Linked DNA regions of Homo sapiens: region 1 is reported to be linked to region 2. Evidence: microRNA targets listed by miRTarBase, many of them from high-throughput screens and not tested one by one. Region 2 holds a microRNA gene; the other region holds the end of a gene's coding sequence.

What was found. Region 2 holds the annotated microRNA hsa-miR-1200 (CUCCUGAGCCAUUCUGAGCCUC, at 1,601-1,622, opposite strand). A microRNA usually pairs through its seed, bases 2 to 8, with sites in the 3' UTR of a target mRNA and lowers its output. Matches are read on the target gene's strand: a 7mer-m8 pairs with bases 2 to 8, a 7mer-A1 pairs with bases 2 to 7 and ends in A, and an 8mer does both.
Region 1: the mRNA of PSMC1 is a reported target of hsa-miR-1200. Seed matches in the 3' UTR shown: 7mer-A1 at 2,442-2,448 and 7mer-m8 at 1,418-1,424.

What each region holds. Positions count from the first base shown.
Region 1 is chr14:90,271,872-90,274,871 of GRCh38, reverse strand. PSMC1 (proteasome 26S subunit, ATPase 1) reads right to left here. Exons shown (of 11, transcript NM_002802.3): 11 at 1-2,599. The coding sequence ends at 2,465. It overlaps NRDE2 (NRDE-2, necessary for RNA interference, domain containing), which reads left to right. Exons shown (of 14, transcript NM_017970.4): 14 at 1-3,000. Among named protein-coding and RNA genes, the nearest start is that of PSMC1, 17 kb to the right of the region's middle.
Region 2 is chr7:36,917,803-36,921,033 of GRCh38, forward strand. MIR1200 (microRNA 1200) reads right to left here and starts at 1,630; the gene lies at 1,555-1,630. All of the region lies in intron 16 of ELMO1 (engulfment and cell motility 1), which reads right to left.

The DNA of each region.
Region 1 (3,000 bases), not on the chromosome of region 2:
GCAAACTTTCAGATCAATTCATATGTATTGGGGTGTGTGTGTGTGTGTGTGTGTGTGTGTGTGTGTGTGTGTGTGTGTGTGTGTAGTTCCCTATTTAAAGGGCTATACTGTATTCCATTAATAGTAACTGTTTGTTAGGATGCTCAGATTGTCCCGAGTTTGGCCAGTGGAAGCCCCTTCACATAGGCTTCGGTGTCCTTAGGACATGTCCTTATCATTCCTTGAGCACTCCCTTGCTTTCTGGCAAAACAGACTTTGGGTTCATCCTGTCCTTTCCCTGCCTAGCCCCGGAATCAGCCCTCACTCCTTTTAGTGGAGAATAATACTTTTAGCAGCAAAGGTCTGGGTCTAGGGGTGCTCACTGCAGTTGGGGTGTCACTGTTCCCAGGTGCTCCCAGTGGACAGAGGTCGTTCTTGTTTTCTTCTTTCTGTGTCTAACTCCTCAGAGAAACCTGGCTCCCACTGTCCTGTTTACCTGCCTGACTGCCTCCATACATAAGCAGCCTCCCTCCCCTGCCACCACCCCGTCCCTGCAGATGCCTTCCTCACCCACTTGGGCTCTCATACTGCACATCAGGCTGCCCACACTGACTCCCCCTATCGGACCACCCCAGCCCTGCACATACACCCCACACGGATGCCAGCCTCACCCTGCCCATGCTGAGTCCCCGTGCTGTGGTGTTCCTCCACATGGACAGCTCCACACCCTACTTGGGCTGACACCCGCCCTCCCCACAAGCACCCCGTCCTTACCCTGCACTGGGCCACCCCCACGTGTGGATGTCCTCTGTGGTAGGCAGAGTGGCGCCCCTAAAGATGGCCACACCCTAAGCCCTGGAACGTGTGAATGTTACATGGCAAAAGGAACTTTGCAGATAAAAATTAAGAAGATTGTAAACTTTAAAACAGGGAAATTATCCTGGATCATCTGCATGGGTCCAATGCAATCACAAGGATCCATAAGAATAGAAAAGGCAGGCAGAAAGAAGGGTCGGTGGGAGAGAGGGACTGGGCCTGCTGCTGCTGGTGGAAAATGAAGTGCCACGAGTCAGGAGGGAGGGTGGCCTTCACAGACTGGCAAAGGCCTCAGCTGGCAGCCAGCAAGGAAATGCTGACCTCAGCTGGCCCACAACTCCAAGAAATTAAATTCTGCCAACAATAATCCTCAGCAAGGAAACGGATTCTCCCTTAGAGACGCCAGAGGGAACGGTCCTGCCAACAGCAAGACTTTAGCCTGGAGACACTCGTGTTGGACTTCTGACCTACAGAACTGAGATAAAATTGTGGTTTTTATTTATTTATTTATTTATTTTTGAGACGGAGTCTTGCTCTGTCGCCCAGGCTGGAGTGCAGTGACGGGATCTTGGCTCACTGCAACCTCCGCCTCCTGGGTTCAAGCGATTGTCCTGCCTCAGCCTCCTGAGTAGCTGGGACTACAGGCACCTGCCACCACGCACAGCTAATTTTTGTATTTTTAGTAAAGATGGGGTTTCACCATGTTGGCCAGGCTGGCCTCAAACTTCTGACCTTGTGATCCGCCTGCCTCAGCTTCCCAAAGTGCTGGGATTACAGGCGTGAGCCACCGTGCCTGGCCAAATTGTGCTGTTTTTAAACAAAGCCTGTGGTAACTTGTTATAGTATTAACAGAAAACTAATACACACTCCTCATTCAGTGTGGGCCCTACAACCCACACCAGGCCACCTGTCAAGGGAACGCTTACCTTGATCTGTCCCACTTAATAGCTTTAGGCCTGATTTGTTCAGAAAGAGAAATGACGGAAATAGACGGAGAAAGGGAAGGGGAAGTTCTGACATGTTTCTGAACACCTTGAAAGGGATGAGATTTCTGAGCCCAAGGGCTCAGAAGGGCTTTCAAGATATCTCTAGGAATCCTCAGTCTCTTGGGAACACCAGTAGTTATTTTCTGCCCTCAGAGTGCTAAGAACATGCATGGTCCACAAAACTTCCAAAAAGGAAAGCTGTACTTCCTTTGGAAGCAATAGCCACATTAACGCAGCCTTTATTATTTAAACAACGAATATCCCTGGCTCTGTGGTAGTGACCATTTCCCACTGTAATTACCGTTGAACGCCAGCTCTGGGGGTGTGATGTGGCGAACGCATAGTGAGGTCCACACTCCTTGGGACCGCAGCCTGAGTTCCTGTCCAAAGGCTTCCCTGTAGCTGGGTCCACCCACAGGCTGCTGTTGAGCGGTAGGTGTGTGTGGAGACTGCAGAAACAGGAAGTGTTTGTGAAAGAGCACGCTTTATTGGGAAGCAGACTGCTGCACAGTGACCAACAGGCCACCCAATGGGCACTTACACATCGTACTCCAAAAGACACAGGATGTTTTGCTAATAAAAATCAGTGGGAACAGGGATTCCTCTGGGCAACTCCCCCAACCTCATCCCTTTCAGGGATTGAGAAATCTCCCAACCATTTTCCTGATGACAGCCATGGTTCATTAGAGATACAGCCCCTCAGGGGTGCCTTCCTGTTTCTTATAAAGAACATTTTCTTTAGATTTTTTGAAGTCTTCATTTGTTACTTTCATTCTACGTTCTCTTAAGGCCATCAGACCAGCTTCTGTACAGATTGCCTGTAAGAAAGAAGAGTGTGTTCAGAAAGTGACATACTCATTTTTATTCTAACAAGGAATTCCAAAAAACCTATTCTGAGGCCAGGCGCGGTGGCTCACACCTGTAATCCCAGCACTCTGGGAGGCCGAGGCAGGTGGATCGCCTAAGGTCAGGAGTTCAAGACCAGCCTGGCCAACACGGTGAAACCCCATCTCTACTAAAAATACAAAAAGTTAGCCAGGGACGGTGGCAGGCACCTGTAATCCTAGCTACTCGGGAGGCTGAGGCAGGAGAATTGCTTGAACCCGGGAGGCAGAGGTTACAGTGAGCCGAGATCGCGCCACTGCACTCTAGCCTGAGCAACGAGCGAAACTCTACCTCAAAAAAAAAAAAAAAAAAATCTGTTCTGAAATAAAGCATG
Region 2 (3,231 bases):
GCAGAATTCTCTGTGGTAGCAGGGAGCTGAGTGTCTATCAACTGGGGAAGATATAAACAAAATGGAATAAATGCAGACAATGAAATATTATGCAAATGTGGGAAGTTTATACAACATAGATATATCTGAAAACATAATACTGAGTGAAAAAATAAGCATTCTTACTTTCTATATAGTCTATATTACAGAGATTTATCATTTATGTAAATTAAAACAAACACACACAAAAATAATATATAATTTTGTAAAGACATTCATTTTAGTTCTAGCATATTAGGTGGTTCTCTGAGGAGGGAAGGAAATGGGTGTAGGGAATGGGGGGTGAAGAGGAACAATAACAAAATAAGAGGAGGGTCTTGCATGGCCTTAGGGTGACAATAAGCTATGAACTGAGCAGTATGCATAACTCAACTCCATATCTGAGGGCCAATTAATTCTTTAAACATTGTTGAGTTCTTGTACAGATTAAACCAGATCTATAAGTCAAACTTCTGGCAATGTAGGAGGTGCTCAACACCTATTTGCTCCCCCTGTGGCTCTCAGAAAATGTAAAAGGGATGGGGTTTTCTTTTGCTTCTCTAATAATTTTATAAGTGAAAATATGAGTCTCAAGAGAATGAGGTAAGAAGAGTAGCACTCAGATATGAGTGTAGAAGGCTAGTTCTCCACCCTGGGTGCATATCACAGTCACCCAGGGGATTCACAGAAAATTCAGATAATCAGGCCCAATCCACTCGTTCCCTCCCCCAGTGACAATGTGTATCATCATCTCTAAGGGCAGGAGGAATAGGGGCCAGGGCCAGGGTCCACAGTACATTTTGAAAAGCATTAGCCTTGTGCTGGAGGGTCTGTCTGTCCGCTGTGCTCTCAGCCACTCATGTTCTTTGGATTGTTGCTTTTGAAACTTTCAAGGGCTTTTGCTAAATAAAGCGTCACCAAACTGCTCAAAAAGAAATACATTTCAAAATATATGATTAGTGTATACAGTATGGTACCCCATCTGCTCTTCCAAAATACTTGAGTTTTAGAAAATAATGTGTAGACAGGTCTATAAATTGCTACCTCCCACAAAACAAAGTAGACTCACTTTAAGGGGTAAGGAAAAATATTTTTTTTCTTTTGGTTTACCCATAGCAAGAGAGTTAATCTATAAGAGCAAGCAAGCATGCCTTCATTCATTCATTCATTCATTCAGTCAGTCAGTCAGTCAGTTGGCACTTGGGCTAAAATAAAGTACTTTATTCTAGGGATGGTTCAGCTAACTTATAGGAATTTAGCATCCATAATAAATAGAACTTGCACAAACGTAGCAACTTTTCTTCTCACAGCTCAATATTCAAGCAAGTAAATATGCACCTTGGGTTGCAAGATCCTAGAAGGCAGAGAATGTAACTCTGTTGAATGTCACTATGTGCTCCATGTTATCCAGCATTTGGTTAATAGTGACTAGGATAATCGTTCATGTCTATTACATTTCCCACAGCATATAGCATCGTGTGAGTCTCAGCCTTTTCTAACACTGCTCAGATGCTGGCTGAAGACTTTGGGACTTCAGGCTATCCCTGACAAATTCCTGAACCAATCTCTCTGGCAAGTGATTGAGGCTCAGAATGGCTCAGGAGAAGTAGCATAGTAAACTAGGAAGAATGTGGGCTTTGGGGTCACAGAACTCTGGATTTGAAACCTGGTTCTCTCACTTATGGGCTAAGTCTCTTCATCTGTAAAATGGGATAATGGCATCAACCTTGCTGGGTTGCTATGATAATTAGATAATGTACACTCAGTGCCTAGAACAGAGTAGGCCTGGCAACTGTGGAAGGGAGGCTGCTGCCAATCAAAGTGTGTTGCTGCACACTCAGTATCAAGTATCCTAAAAGAAGCTCTGATTCCCCATTGCTCATGAAACTCTAGTTTGTATTTCCAAGCTCTGTGATCGATGCTGGGCTCACGGGGAAGAGTTTCTGCAATCCAAAGCTCCCATCAGAATGGGAGCCCTTCCTGAACCCTATTGCTAATGTGACTGCAAATAAAACAACCTGTCTAATCATTTCCATCTCCCTTCCTCTGATTCATTTAAGGAACGAATCAATGCCTTAATTATGTGAACCATTCAGAACTATAATGTGTCACGACTGGGAACGCCCTATGAGATGCCAAAAGCCCCACCCCTTTTGACATCAACAGTGGCCTGGATCAGGGATGCTTTGGTTCTTTCCTTTGGGCACTCTACTCTGGAATGATGTCCAATCACTTTCTTCTGCAAGGGCCAACCTCACACTTTATCCCTTCAGCCTGGCCACTAAGACCCAGCTCTTGCCTCTTCTACTCTGGCTAATATGCCCCTTGGCCAGGCCACCACACAGTCAACTACAGGGCTTATGAACTACCTGAAAAATATTTGCTGAATAGAAGTCAATGAGTATGTGAAAATGAATGAATGAGTGAATGAAATAAGTTGCTTCTCATCTCTGAATGAGATTTGGATTAATTGTTTCATTGGACTGTTGCCCCATGCAAGCAACTATCATCTGGCAGTGCCTCTGGAGGAAGAGGCTGACCTCATATAGCTCTAAATATGAAGTCCAAACATATAGTTTATGTTTCCTAATTCAGCTGATTTGTGGATATTAAAAACAACTGCCACAATGTCCAAAACTAGATGGTTCTTTAAAGTTAATCACAACATGGTTTTTGGTTTATATTCTAAAACATAATCTCTCACCCAATACATTAATTTACATATCCACATAATGAAATTCATGCATATATATGTGCACATATTTTAATGAATCTAAATAGATCACTATAGTTTTATGCATGAAAGGCTTTTAAAAAAATCTGGCATAAAACATAGCCATATTAAATCCCTCTCCAACATGGTAATTTAAGAACAGAATTTTCCATGTTGTTTTCTACTGCTGATTTCATTTTCTACTGTTAGACTGACCACCTTGTGTCTCCTGAAATGCCGTCTTGCTTGAAAAGTCCTTCTTAACTCTCCCACAAGTCACTCTCTTCTCTATGAACCCCAAATCCTTTTTATAGGTCTCCATGAGCAGTGTCAAGGTCTTCATCTATGGTCTGAATGTTTGTGTCTCCCCACCAAATTCATATGCTGAAATATAGTCCCCAGTGCAATAAAATATTAAGAGGTGGAGCCTTTGAAGGGAGAGGATTAGGTCATGAAGATTCTGCTGTAATGAATAGGGTTACTGAAGTTATAAAAGAGGT